Linked DNA regions of Homo sapiens: region 1 is linked to region 2. The links come from fine-mapping of genetic effects on gene expression. Tissue or cell type: prefrontal cortex. Region 2 holds a variant in brackets; the other region holds the start of a gene. All regions are shown on one strand. Distances are from middle to middle.

Region 1 (6,570 bases), 90 kb before region 2:
GAGTGCAGTGGCCTGATCTTGGCTCACTGCAACCTCTGCCTCCCGGGTTCAAGCAATTCTCCTGCCTCAGCCTCCTGAGTAGCTGGAACGGACACAGGTGTGTGCCACCATGCCTGGCTAATTTTTTGTATTTTTAGTAGAGATGGGGTTTCACTGTGTTAGCCAGGATGGTCTCAATATCCTGACCTCAGATGATCCACCCACCTTGGCTTCCCAAAGTGCTGGGATTACAGGCATGAGCCACTGCACCTGGCCAATAGTGTTTTTTGATGAGCAGGAGTTTTAAATTTTGATGAGGTCCATTTATCAATTGTTTTCAGGGTCCATGCTTTTTTTAAAAATTTTTTCTTTTTTTAGAAACGGTGTCTCTTTGTCACCCAAGCTGAAGCGCAGTGGACTGATCATAGTTCACTGCAGCCTTGAACTCTTGGGCTCAAGCAATTTGCCTGCCTCAGCCTCCTGAGTATGTGGGATACAGGCTCATGCCACCATGCCTGGCTTTTTTGTATCCTTTCTAGGAAATCTTTGCATACCCCAAGATTTAAAAGATACCCTCCTGTTTTATTCTAGTAGCTTTATCGATTTGCTTTATGTTTAGGCCAATGATCTCTCTTAAATTGCGTTTTGAATATGGTGTGAGGTAGGGATTGGGTCCCTTCAGGCACATAAATATCTACTTGTTCCAACACCACTTCCTGGTGTTCTTGTCCAAAATCATTTGACCCATATCAGATGGATCAGATGGTTCTCATTATTTTTCCAACAGTAAACATTGCAGCTAAGAATGTGTCTCATGCAGTCTCTCTCCACTCAAAAAGTGTGGTCTGCAGACCAGTGGCGTCACATCACCTGGGAGCTTGTCAGAAATTCAGAATCTGGCACCACTCCAGCATTACACAACCCCCTAGTGAGTCTCAGGCACGTTACATTTTGAGGAGCAATAGTGTAGATATTTCTTGAGGAATGAGGATAATTTTTGAGGAATGAGGGGAAACATCATCATGACATTTGCTGCCTCTCACAGCCTCCCCATGCACTACAGCCTGTGGGGCCTGCCAACCCATTTTCCCTGGTTACTGTGCAGGGCTAGATTTACTTCCAGACTTAACCTCTGGGTCCACCTCTCCTGACATGTGCTGTGCCGTTCTTTGCTGCTGGGATTGAGGGAAGGGGGCCCACTCACTCACCCACTCCTCACCTTTTAATACCCACAACCACCTGCTCACTCACCCAGCAGTTCCTATGCTCTCCCCTATACACATTCTTTCACCAGGAACCTCAGTTTCCTCAATTGCAGAACCAAAATAAGAATGGTCTTGATATCAGGAACTACTGTGAAGGGAAGTGATCTGAGGAGTACCTGGGCATGGAGACAGCACAATATAAGTCAGTTATCGTCATGGCCATTTCAGAGCTCTTTTTCCAGTAAAGCCCCTGGATGCTGCTCGCCTCTGCTATGTAGCCTCACTCCCCTGCAGCCGGGCAGAATGGAGTCCCCCTCCTCTCCAGCCTGACTTCTCCTCCCCTGCTCCGCGTCCCCAGGGCAGCGTGCACCGATAAATCTTTCCCAGCGCGTTGCATTGTTACAGCGAGTTGCCCTCGCATCCGACCGGCCCCCCGCCCCACCTCTGGAGATCTTCAAACCCAGGATCTGTGCCTTGGTCGTCTTTGAAGCCCCGGCCCCTGGCACAGCGCCTGGCACCTGGAGGGCGCTCAATAAATGTTTGCAAAATCGAATTCTCTGTTGAGCAGGTGTCCACCCCTCCACTCGCGGAGGGTGGGTTGCGCGGGCGGAAGGGAAGTCTGGCTGTGTGCCAGGGTGCGGGGGGACACAGGCAGGGGACTCAGGGAGCGGGAGAGCGGGAGCGGGTACGACGCCGGCTAGCGGAGCCCGGCCCGGAGGGTGCGGCGGTGCCAGACGCGGAGGGCGGCCTCCGCTCCTCCCCCGCCTCCTCCCCGCGCCGCGCCTCCTCCCCGCGCCGCGCCTCCTCAGGCTCCGCCACCCCCGCCCGGCGCGGCAGCCGCAGGGAGGGGTCCGGGAAGGCGGAGCCAGCGGCGGCCCAGGCTCTGGGCACTCGCGCGGCTCCCGTTCGCGGAGCACACATCCCGGCGCGACGAGGTAGGAGGCCGCGAGGGGAACGGACGAGGGAGCTGGGCGCCGCGGCGGGAGGGGCGGGAGGCCGGGCCGAGACCCTCCTCCCGTGCTCCCGGACAGCCTCGCGGCCCACCGAGCCCACCGCGGGAGTCTCAACCCCGCCCCTCGGCCCCCGCCTCCCTCTTCCCGCGCCCGCCCCGCCGCGCGCCCCCCGCTCCCTGCTGCTCCGCGTCCTCCGGGACCGCCCTCCGAGGTCCCCCGGGGTCGCTGCTCCTGCGCCCAGTGCGCTCCTTGTTCTCCCACAGGTTCCTTCGGAGAGCGAGCGGGAGTCGGTGCTCGGCCTCCTGCGGGGAGCAGCCCGAGGGTGAGTCCGGCGTGGCGTGGCGGGGCGGGGCGGGGCGGAGGCTGGAGGGCCCGGGGCCGCTCTTACGCCTCTTAGTGGCACCGGGGCTCGGCGCTGCGGGCTGGCTCCATGTTTGCGGAATGAATCAGTCATGACTCTCCTTCTCCTCTTCCTAAGGAGGACTTTTTGAGGTCCACGTGCTGCAGAGCACCTTTGGAGGGCCTCATGAGATAGGGGTCCCCCCTCCTGCATAGTGGAAGCCCGACTCCCATTTCCCCCCCTCCTCTCTGCACTCCAGTCTGGAGGCTCCCTTTGGGTTGGGTCTTGGGGGGTCGGGGACAGGGGGCTTGTAGGCCCAGCCAGGTAGTTGTGGAAGGTGTGTCCCAGCAGGAGACTTGAGCCAGGGCTCTTAGAAGGTTGCAGTGGAGGGGGCGCGCTGCGGAGGACAGCTGACACTGTCAGGCAGGGTCACTTGGCACCTCCAAGGCCAGCCTGGAAGAGCCTGCTTGAATATGGATTTTGACCCACAGCTTACTGAAAGCTTCCACGCCGCTGTTTCTTCATCAATAAAATGGGAACATTCGCAGTCATTTCTCAGGACTTTGTGCAGACAAAAAGTTTATCATAGAAATCACCCCACACAATGCTTGGCACATCGAGGACACTCAGCACATCTTAGCTTTATTTCCTTCCTCTCTGAAAAAAGTAAGCAGAGTTATTTGTTCCCATCCTCTCTGTCCACAGCCTGGTCTCAGAGAACACAGTAGATGTGTAGTCAGTTTGTTCAATAAATATGCTTGATGGAGCTTCAATACCCACCTCCACCCCCTTCTCCCAGAATCTGCAGGGAGAGGTCGGGAGGTGACAACGCCAGCATGCCAGTGCTATCGGAGGACTCTGGTAAGTACCTCCCCCCGGCTGGACCTGCCACAGTCCTGAAGACAAGAGCCTGCCTGGCAGCCTCCAGGCCCTGGCAGTGAGAGCCTGGGGAGAGAATGTCCTCACGGCAGGACTGAAGTGCTGTTTGAGGCCCCACTCGGGCTCCTCGGGGGCAGGGAGCACCCACTGCGTTTGCTATCCTTTGTTTTTCTCACCTCTCCCCAGGTTTGCATGAAACCCTGGCCCTGCTGACCTCCCAGCTCAGACCTGACTCCAACCACAAGGAGGAGATGGGCTTCCTGAGGGATGTTTTCAGTGAAAAAAGCCTCAGTTACTTAATGAAGGTGAAGTCCCACGTCATCCTGCGTGGAAGGGTGTCTAGAGGTCTTTCTAGCTGTCTGTGGCCGTCTGAGGTCATCCTAGTCATCTCCCTGCCCCAGGAAGGCCTTCACTTGCCCACTACACAGGACTTTCTCTTATGGTGCCCTGTCAGTGGCCCAGTCTGCTGCCCCAAATGTCCCCACAGCCGTGGGTGGGATGTGTGGTGTCCAGGGTGCATCTGAAATACTCTGTCTTTGCAGATTCATGAGAAGCTTCGCTATTATGAAAGGCAAAGTCCAACCCCAGTTCTGCACAGCGCTGTGGCCCTCGCTGAGGACGTAAGCCCCAGGTTTCTCCTTACAGTGTCTGCCCCACTCCCCACCCTGTAGGGCTCCTTCATCTTGCCTCGCTTGCTTAGTGTGGGGACACCGGGAATCAGGAGCCCAAAGGTGAAGAGGTGTTTTCTTCCCTTGTCCTCCTCCTTCTCTTCCTCTCTCTGGGTTCCCCGAAAGGTAGGGAGGAACCCGTGAGCCTTGGACTGGGCTGGGAGACACTGTGACATGGAGCTGCCCACTTACTGTGTGTTCTTTAGCAAGTCTGCTTCCTCTGCTGTAAATGAGAGCATTGGATTGGCTCAGCAGTTCCCAAACTGCCCTGAGGACTGGTGATTTGAATAGGTCAATAAGACATTATGTCTGTGCTTTCCTGAAGTCAAGGGACCTACAGTGTGTCCCCGCATACTGGCTCAGGCTTCTCATTTTTTAAAGGAACGCTTCTTAATTTCTTGTGGACCTAGTCGTCTATGTTGCGTGGTTGGGGAAAACCCATTCTGGTTGATTACTAAGATCAGTTCCTGAATAAACTCACCTAACCCCAGGAGATGGCCTGGGGAGGGATGAGTGCAGCTTGTGGGTGCAGAGCCCTGGGCCCTTCTCCACTGTGGAATGTGATTAGGGGCACATTAGATTGCCTGGCTCCCAGGCTCAGCGCTGCCTGTCCCACCAGCTCTGTGATGTTAAGTAGGCCACTCAACCTCTCTGAGCTCCCATTTCCTCATTCATAAAATAGCATCTGAGAGCCAGATAAGCCCAGGTTCAAATCCTAGCTGTGCTGTATATGAGCTCTGTGACTTCGGGCAAAATGTTTAATCTCTTTGAGTCTCAGGATTCTCATCTGTAAAATGGCAAAGTAACAAGACCCTCTGCATCAAGTTGGTTGCGAGGGTTCAGTGAGAAGATCCACATAAAGCAGAAAGCACGTAGGGCTTAAAACGGTGGCTCCTTGGAGGATGGCCCCATAGAGCTGCTCCTGACCCCTGGTGTGATGTTCCCAGGATCATCGTCGTCGGGTGGTTGAGGGTCTGGTGTGCCCCTGGGGGCTGCAGCTGGGTGGGCCCTTCCAAAGAGGAAGGACCCAGCAGATATGGGGCAGGGGCACCTCTAGCCATCAGTGGCGCCTGTCTCATTCTCTGCAGGTGATGGAGGAGTTGCAGGCCGCCTCCGTGCACAGTGATGAGAGGGAGCTGCTCCAGCTGCTGTCCACCCCGCACCTGAGGGTAGTCACACAGAGCCCCTGCCCAGCCATGCCTCTGGGTCTCCTGGGATGGGGGCGGAGGGAGCTCTCCTAATGAGGCTGAGGAGTGGAGACTGAGGGAGCGATCCTCAGCACTAGTGTCTGGGCAGTTGTCTCTCTGGCATGGCGTCTGCCACCCTCCATACCACCGGCCAGCTGCGGCCTGCTGACCCTGTGAGCGGCGGGCCAGCCTTCCTTTTCTCTGGCTTTCCCGGCAGGCTGTGCTCATGGTACATGACACGGTTGCCCAGAAGAATTTTGACCCCGTTCTCCCGCCTCTGCCTGACAATATCGATGAGGATTTTGATGAGGAATCGGTGAAGATCGTCCGCTTGGTGAAGAACAAGGAACCCCTGGTAGGTGCTGCTGCCTGCCCCTCTCTAACCCACTCTTCCCCTGCCTCTCACCCCCACCCAGAACACTGGACAAGATCCTCCCCGAAGTCTTCAGAGTGAGTGACGGCAGCTTTGCCTGCGCTGCTGCTCATCCCTGTGGTGCCTCTGTGTGCAGGGCACCCCTTTCTCTAGGTGGATACAGCCCCTCTCAACTGTGGCCAACACCCTTTGTGTAGTTAATAACCTGCACAATTGTACAGGGTGACCCTGATCATGCTTTAAGCCAGAAATGGACAAACTACAGCCCAAGGGCCAAAACCAGCCCACAGCTTATTTTTTAAAATAAAGCTTTTTTGGAGCACAACCAGGCCCATTCACTTACAGATTGGCTGTGGCTGCCTTTATAGTGCGATGGCAGAGTTGAGTCGTTGTGACAGAGACTGTGTGGCTGGCCTCAAATATTTACATGTGGCCCCTTATAGAAAACGTGTGACAATGCCTGCTCTGAATGTTGAGGAAGCACAGGGCATTCCTCTCCCCAGCAGACAGACTGCTATCACTTTGGTCCTGGTTCAGCATTGATTTACCGAGCAAAGGGACAGCGTTGTTTATGAGATGCTCAGAAGTGGTGGAAGCCCAGAGAATTGAGATTGGCTCCAGAGGATCCCACAGCTGGCATTCTCTATTTCCAACTTTCCCCAAATGACCTCCGACGAGCCTCTTCTGCAAACAGACGAGGATCTCTCCTCTGCCTCTGTTTCCTCACTTGTAAAATGGAGTGGCCATCCATTGATTTAGCAAACACATTGTGAGCCCTCCTATCCAGGCTCTGTATTGGGTGCTGGCGGTTCAGAGCTGAATAAATGATGGATAGCGATGCTGGAAAGTTCTCAGTTCTGGGGGGCTAGAAGTCCTGAGGTTCTTAGCTGATGGCCTCTCTTTCTAGCAATAATTATCTTACGTACTTCAAATAGATGGCACAGATGATGTTAACAATAAGTGTGCAAATGTGTTTGCAGTTACAG
Region 2 (8,235 bases):
AGGCTGTGTTACAAGATTGACACACAGGCTGAACGTGGCCGTCTCCCCTCTGGACTATGAGGCTATTGAGGACAGGACCCCAGCCTTTGCACATTTGTAGCCTCAGTGCTTTTGCACAGGGCTTGGCCAGAATCCGGGCTCCATAAATATTTGTTGAATTAATGGATGTTTGGCTGCTGGGGCATGATTTGAGCAGCAGAAATGAAAAGCCCAGCTTCCTCCCAGCTCAGCAGCAGGCAAGAACTTTGGGACAACTTTTCCAAAGCACTTATTTCATTCAAGACCCTCTGTAGCTTTGCAACCGTGGCGGGGAACGGGGCCCTTCCCAAGAAACCAAGTCCATGATTGTTTACCCTGGACATTATTAAACACCCACATTACAGGTATCTCTGTCATTTGGCCAACAATTTGGTGTGTGATGTTAGGTTATTTCTATGTCTGAAGAAAACAGCTCAGCTCTGACTAAAGAAATAAATGATAACATTTTTCTTTCAGGCAACCAGATTCCTTGGTACAAAAGGCTCCCTGGGGAGAAATGCCGGGACAGTGTGGCTCCTCTGAGGCTATTTACATCTGTCAGCTTCTCTAATCTCTTGCCTTCCTTCCTCTGTCTGTTTCCTTCCCTTTGCACAGAGCCCGGCATTGAGCCTGGTACTTACAGGGAGGGTGGTGGAGCCATCGTCCTCACGTATGCGCTGGGGATCGGGGTTGGTGGGGGGTGGCCAGTGGCATTTGGTGGGTTTTTTTTTGTTGTTAGAAACCAGCCTTAATTTAAGATAATAACTCTCCTTGTTTGCCAGTGATCGCTATTTGTAGGCACCTATTTTCCCTGGTCAATTTGGCTAAGATAAATCGAATCTAAAAGGGAACATTTTCTAAAAATGCTGCGGGGCAGTTTGCAGAAACTGGACCAAGGAACATCTTCCAGGTCACCTGTTCCATGATGGCCTGGATGCCCCCCTTCTTAAATGAGATTGGGGGCATAGAAACAGACTCCCCAGCCTTTTACGACAACACCTTTAAAGTGTCATTGAAACCTGGGGGAACAAGGACCCTGAAGAATCATTTGGTCTGGACTTTACTGAAAGATTCCAATTCCTGCATGGTCAGCCCCCGCCCCCTCTCCAACTGGTCTCTTGTCAGTGTCCTCACAACCCCCAGCCCAGCCCTGGCTCCCACCCTCCACCCACCCTGCCTGTCTGTTAGTTCCTCGAAAGCACCAGCTCCCAATTATGACGATGCTGTTCCCTCTGCCAGGGACACTCTTCTTGCATTCTCTGCCATCCATCTGATGTCGGCTCAAATATCACCTCCTCAGAGGCCTTCCCTGACCATCCCATCTAAAACAGGATTCCACTATTCTTTTTCCTAACCCTTGTCACAAGTTGTCATTTTATATTTGTCTCATGGCAGGTCTGCCTCCGCTGCCCAGTTGTAAGCTCTATTAGACAGGGACTGAGCTGGCTTGTTCTTGAGATCTGAGATCACAGAGCCTGGCCTGCAGCAGGTGCTCAGTATATCAGTATATGTTGGCAACTGAGTGAACCAGCAAGGGGTCGGTGGGCCCTGGCACAATTGCTCTGCTACCGCTAACACCACCACTAAGAATGTCATTTAAATACCAGATCATAAGCACCAACTTTAGTTCCAGGCAGCCCTCCTCCTGGAGTGGGAGCAAGAGACTCTCTCCACCTCATCCCCCAGGCCTGGAAAAATGTTTTGAGCTTTCAGTTGCTTATTCTTTTCTTCTTTATGCACAAGTTGTTTTCCTTTCCTCAATCGCTTTATTTCCCTTTTTTCTAGTAGTCACATCTTCATTAGAGATTTTATATTACAATATCATCATAGACTCCCTTTTAAATTTCCCTGGTCCTTCTGTTGCTGTCTGGGGAGACAGAGGTGCACACTCTGAAGTCGGTACCGGACCCATTCACACTGGCCCAGCTTCTGTGTGGCTGACCAGCCGTGTGTCATTTAATACCAGACTGTGTGGCTGACCAGCTGGGTGTCTCCAACCCCTCAGGGGCTCCACCAGACCCTTGGAATCAACCCCCTATGGTTCTCCCTTGGGCCCCTATCTCCTGCATGCATTCAACTCACCAACCACCACGTGCGCGGTTTCTGTTTTCTGTCCATTTGCCTAACGTCTCTTGAATCCATCCATTTCTCTCCAGTGCCACTTCCCTGGTTTGGCCGCCGTCTCCCTTGTCCTGGCCTCTGATATTCTCCTGGCCTCTGGACTCACCTCCTCTAAGCCAGTCTTCCTCTGGGCGCAGAATCTGATCCTGTCCCTCCTCTGCTTCCTGTGGCCTTAGGATGGAGAGCACTCACCTCAGCCAGGCCCCCAGGCTAAACCCGATCTGATGCTCCCAGCTCTCCAAGCCCTTCTCTTCTCAGATGCCTCTCTGGGCTCCTCTTAGTTCCTGCAAGTCCCGCACTCTCTCCCACCTCCGGCCTTTGGGCAGCGAGTCTTTCAGCTAAGTGGTTTTCCTACATCACCTTCTACTCCCTCCTCGGCTCTCATACATCCTCCTGGATGCCCCGCTGAACCTCCTGGGCCAGTTAGGGCCTTCCCCTGTGTTTTCCTGACAGATTGTAGTTTCCCTCATATTGCCTTGGCGAAGTGCCCTCTAACTGCCAATTTATTATTATTATTTTATTATTATTATTATTTTGAGATAATAATCTCAGAGTCTTGCTCTGTCACCCAGGCTGGAGGGCAGTGGCATGATCTTGGCTCACTGCAACCTCTGCCTCCCAGGTTCCAGCGATTCTCCTGCCTCAGCCTCCTGAGTAGCTGGGACTACAGGCACATGCCACCACGCCTGGCTAATTTTTGTATTGTTAGTAGAGATGGGGTTTCACCATGTTGTCCAGGCTGGTCTCGAACTCCCGACCTCAAGTGATCTGCCCACCTTGGCCTCCCAAAGTGCTGGGATTATAGGCATGAGCCACTATGCCCGGCCACCAATTTATTATTTCTTCCCTTAGACTGGGAGCTTCATGAGGGCAGAGGCTGGCTGTCATGCTCAGGGGTGCAGAGAAGATCCTGACTTAAAATTCCTGTGACTTGGACATGCAGGAGAAGCCAGACGTGAAGGATATAAATTGAACCAACTTGGACTGAAGATCCCAGCCAGGAGGATCTGCTCCCCCAGGAAGGGAACTGATTTGTCCTCGAGGCCCCTGGGATAGGAGAAGCCACAGCATCCTGTTGTTTGATCTTCTTATCTTCAAGCAGGCATGACTCGGTTCCAGAAATACAAGCCATAAGATAGACCTCCAGACTCCTAGAGACGATCTGAAGCTGCAGAAGCCCTCCACTGAAAGACCGGACCCACTGCCTACTCCTCCTGGCAGGTGCCCTGGACAAGGGCACAGACTTCACAGCGTTCAAGTGTGAAGGGATTGTCCTTCTCCAGCCCTGGATATTAAAAGGTCTACCCCGATGAGCCATGGAGGGACTCTGAGTGTGTGTGTGTGTGTGTGTGTGTGTGTGTGTGTGTGTGTGTGTTGGAGGAGTTGCTTATGGAAAATATTTTTCCTGCTCTTAAAAAGGGACTCCTGCCAGGCATGGTGGCTCATGCCTGTAATCCAAGCAGTTTGGGAGGCCGAGGCAGGTGGATCACCTGAGGTCAGGAATTCGAGACCAGCCTGACCAACATGGAGAAACCCTGTCTCTAATAAAAATACAAAATTAGCCGGGCATGGTGGCACATGCCTGTAATCCCAGCTACTCGGGAGGCTGAGGCAGGAGAATTGCTTGAACCCAGGAGGCAGAGGTTGCGGTGAGCCGAGATCGCTCCACTACCCTCCAGCCGGGGCAACAAGAGTGAAACTCTGTCTAAAATAAAATTTAAAAAAAGAACAAAAAGGGACTCCTGGCTGGGCATGGTGGCTCATGCTTGTAATTCCAATACTTTAGGAGGCTGAGTCAGGTGGATCACTTTAGCCCAGGAGTTCAAGACCAGCCTGGTCAACATGGCAAAAAATACAAAAAAAAAAAAATTAGCCAGGAATGGTGGTGTGCACCTGTAGTCCCAGCTACTAGGCAGACTGAGGTGGGAGGATCACCTGAGCCTGGGAGTTTGAGGCTGCAGTGAGCTGTGGTTGCACCACTGCACCCCAGCCTGGGTGACAGAGTAAGACCCTGTCTAAGAAAAAAAAAGGCGTGTAGCACTTCCCTCCTCTCCCCCATTATCTCCCTTGCTCCCCCTCTCCATGTGAGGTGCTGGCTTCCCCCTTCACCTTTTGACATGATTGGAAGCTTCCTGAGGCCTCCCCAGAAACCCAGCAGATGCCCAGCACCATGCTTCCTGTACCGCCTGCAGGACCACAAGCCAATTAAACCTCTTTTCTTTATAAATTACCCAGACTCAGGTCAGTCAGCCTTCCTTCCTTCCTTCTTTTAAATTTTTTAATTTTGAGACAGAGTTTTCCTCTGTTGCCCAGGCTGGAGTGTAGTGGTGCAATCTTGGCTCACTGCAACTTCCTCTTCCTAGGCTTAAGTGATCCTCCTGCCTTGGGCTCCCAAACTGCTGGGATCAGAGGCATGAGCCACCGCACCTGGTCTCAGATATTTCTTTATAGCAATGCAAGAATGGCCTAATACGGGTGACAAGTCAGAGTTTGCAGGGAAGCCCAAGAAGCAAGCACATCAGCTGCCTGAGTGAGGCCGTGAAGGGAGCCGGTGGACAGGTCTGC[A/G]GGCAGCTGTAGCTCAGCAAGCCCAGCTGGCCAGAACACGGGCCAGACAGGGAGCCAGCAGCCCGAGAGGTGGATTGGCCAGGCATATCTCTGCCTCAGTGTCATCACGGCACATGACCGTGACAACCCCCTGAGAGTCAGGATGCTGCTTCACTTTTATTTTCCAAATCTCATGCAAGCTCCTCTTTTGACCAACTCTACCCTAGACCCCTCTGGAGAAGGGGTTTCTGGGAAGTATTATTCCCAGATTAGCCAAATGGACAAAACACAAACCAGCAGGAAGACCAGCCCCACTCATCTCTCTGGCCTCCTCCCCTCTACTCCCTACCTGTGCCCAGGCCCTAAACTGTTTACAGCTCCCCATTGTGCCTCTGCCCATGCTATGTCCTCAATTTGGGATACCTCTGCTCTCTTCTTTAGCTAGTCAATGCTACTGAGCCCTCAGGATCTGGCCCCAGAGACTCATTCCCTGAGACATCTTCCCTCTCTGAGAACTCCCCTCTCCTCTGTGCTCCCCAAGAACTGGGTACAAACCCACATTGCAACTCCTGTTACCCACCGAGTCTTCCTCCTCGCCAGGGCTAGGAATCTCTTGGGAAGGAGGACTGTGTCTGTGCTGGCCAGCCTCCCAGCAGCTAGTGCTGGGAAGGCAGGGTTCTCAAGGAGGGCGCAATGCCCTCCTGGCATGGAAACCACTAAACCACCGGTGCAGTGTGCTTCAGAATCACGTAGGGAACGTGTTACACATTCAGATTCCCAGTCCTCACCTCCCCGAGATTTTGATTTGGTAGTTCTGGAGCTAGACTCAGGAACCTGCATTTTTCTTTTTTTTAAATTGGGCAGCCTCTAGAGCCAGAGTAGGCTCAGAGACTCCCAGGAACCAGCATTTTTTAGCAAACACTGTGAGTAATTCATGAGCAATTTGTCTACCACATCAGGCTGACTCTGACAGAGCTGAATCTTTTTTTATTTTTTTAAGAGTTTAAGTCTAACTCTTTTCATTTTTTTTAACCTTAGTTTCTAGTTAGATTAGAAGGTCTGTCTCTTTTATAGATAAAAGCTCTATTAAGTCCTTATAGGTCTTATTCTGCTTTTATTGGAGGCCCTGAAGCCCAGACTATGGGATTTAAAAGTCTCTGAAGGGTGACAGAGAGGACCAGAGAGAAGGCAGTAGAGTCGAGGCATGGAGCTTGCCGAGGGCCTGGCCGGGACAGAGAGGCCCAGCAACGCCTTGGCCCCAAGAAAATCTTCTTGTCTTTCTGGAATGCCGAGAAGCCCTGAGGAGGTCCTGGGTGGGAAGAGCTAAGCCATAGTAGGTGTGCTGAGGCCCATGGGAGGGGACTCAGCATGTGCCTCAGTAGCCCGTGACGCAGGACCTCCCACGCGGGTCTCCTGAGGAGCTGGAGAGAAGCAGATTATTCCTCCAACATATCAGTGAGGGCACCTTGGGCCCAACTGGCTGGGGAGGTGGGGATGTGTGGGGTGGGGACAGGATGACAGCAGAGGAGCTGGCACTAGGACAGGAGCCACAGCAGGCTGGGTACCACAGAGTGGGGCCTTGCCAGTTTCGACATCTGCCCCCAGTCCCTGCCTGGTCACCCAAGGAATGTGGCTTTAGATTTGTGGCTCGGGACCCCAGGAGAGGGAGAGGGAGCCTCTCAGCCTGTCTAGATCTTCTTGGCCAGGTGGTGGGAGGTGGCTTCTCCCAGGGGCCCCGGGGGCTGCTGGATGAGACGCTGACTCAGTTATCTTCTGAGTTGAGCCATTGTTTTATTTAAAAATACAGAGCAAATAAACCCACAATATCACTCCACCCCATGGACACAAGCACTACTTATATTTAGGTGTATCCCCTTCCAGTCTTGTTTCCTCTGTGTATGTGTGTGTGTGTGTGTGTGTGTGTGTGTGCAGGCACATGCATGTGTTTGTTTGTACCATAGGTCCATAAAGTTCTGTATTCTGTATGACACCATTAGCATTTTCTATGTTGCCACAGAGTCTTTGTGACCATCATTCCCAAAGGCTGCCTGGTCTACTGAGATGATGGGCCATAGTTTCCTTAAGGATCCTTTGTTGTCTTCTGACCCACACAATGACACTAAGTTTTACCTGGGGCCAGACTCCCGCTCCCTGAAGTCAGCCCTGTTCAAACCCCAAATCTTGGCCCTCTCAATCCAGTCCTTCACTCCCTGACCTCTTCCTGCATTCTTCTGCCTGCTCCAGACTTTTTGATTTACCTCCCAATTTATGTATCACACTCACCACCCCCCTAGATCTGACAGCTTAGATAATGCCTTCTTGAATACTGGAAAAACCTGAATTGCCATCAGTTTTTGAGGTTCCTAATATACTATAAAATGTAAATATGCCTAAAGAGGGTTATAAAGATTGTCAGCTATTTTAGGCTGGGTGTGGTGGCTCACACCTGTAATCCCAGCACTTTGGGAGGCCAAGGGGGGTGGATTTCTTGAGCCCAAGAGTTCAGGACCAACCTTGGCAACATGGTAAAATCCCACCTCTACCCAAAATACAAATATTAGCCAATCTCTTAACCCAGTCTCAAAACAAATAAATAGATTAAAATTAAAAATAAAAGATTGTCAGCTATTTCAGTGTTTACACTGAACAAATTAATATTCCTTTCACCAGTAATGTGGTATAACATTGTTATGAACCCCCAAGAAATGTACAAATAAGGTACCACACGTGATACCAACTCTCCAGATGTGGAGACAAGGTCAAGGCCAAATGACAAATGTTCTCTTTGGGTCTTGTCAGAGTCACTCTCTGAGACTAAATATGCAATTGCACTTGAAGAAAAAAATAGCAGAAGTCTAAATTTGAGACCCATTGAGACCTGAGCCAATGGCTTTCCATACTCCCCTTGTGTCTGCACCCAATTAAAAACAAAATAAAACAGGTTATCCTGGCTGCTTCTCTAGAACTGTCCCTTGGCCTACCTTGTCAGGCTGAGCCTGGCACCTGTCCTCAGATCTGATGCCTTGTTGCCTGGAGTGCCTCCCCCACCCACTCAACCCTAGCTCCTGGGATCCTGCCTTGGGTCAGCCCCCTTGGCTGGTACCAGAGGTGTTTGGAACATTGGATGGCTTCTAATGTTTTCACTATCGTAAATGTGGTGGATGGGATTCTCTGGTTCTGTCAGCTCCTTTTCCCTCTCTATGCTCATCCTTACTGAGGAGGGAACATTTTAAGCTCACCCCTACTGAGGAGGGAGCCTTTTAACCTCATAAATCATTAGAGTGATACATCAAGAATCCACTCTAAGCAGAGAAGTGGATTATCTCAAGGCCCCTCCACTCAGAAGATGGGAGGATGTGGAGCAGGTGGTTCTATTTGCCTTGAGCACAAGGGCCACAGGGAGCAATCCAGATTTGCTGGCTACTGACCAAAGGGGATGAAGCTCCTTTTCTAAGAGAAGAAGGTTAGACAAGGAAGGAGATGAGAGAGATCAAGGGAAACAGAGATTACTGGGCATCATGGAAGCTGTTTTCTGGAAGGCAACCCAGTGGG

Direction of the effects. Positions count from the first base shown, and alleles are read on the strand shown. Sizes are in standard deviations (SD) of each study's normalised expression.
For the expression in prefrontal cortex of the gene that starts at base 2,074 in region 1, allele A in region 2 goes with a higher level than allele G (large effect, 0.88 SD a copy in GTEx).

The links. PIP is the estimated chance that this variant, and not a neighbour inherited with it, causes the effect.
Region 1: it holds the start of MPP3, and the variant in region 2 is fine-mapped to the expression of MPP3 in prefrontal cortex (GTEx, PIP 0.99).

What each region holds. Positions count from the first base shown.
Region 1 is chr17:43,828,650-43,835,219 of GRCh38, reverse strand. It overlaps MPP3 (MAGUK p55 scaffold protein 3), which reads left to right and starts at 2,074. Exons shown (of 20, transcript NM_001932.6): 1 at 2,074-2,119; 2 at 2,401-2,459; 3 at 3,277-3,338; 4 at 3,543-3,661; 5 at 3,899-3,976; 6 at 5,113-5,193; 7 at 5,429-5,566. The coding sequence starts at 3,314. LOC107984979 (a long non-coding RNA gene) reads right to left here and starts at 1,515. Exons shown (of 3, transcript XR_001753057.2): 1 at 1,231-1,515. RefSeq lists silencers at 1,945-2,044, 2,065-2,114.
Region 2 is chr17:43,738,103-43,746,337 of GRCh38, reverse strand. No RefSeq gene overlaps it. Among named protein-coding and RNA genes, the nearest start is that of SOST, 17 kb to the left of the region's middle. RefSeq lists a silencer at 2,215-2,374. The variant A/G (reference allele first, on the strand shown) is at 4,705.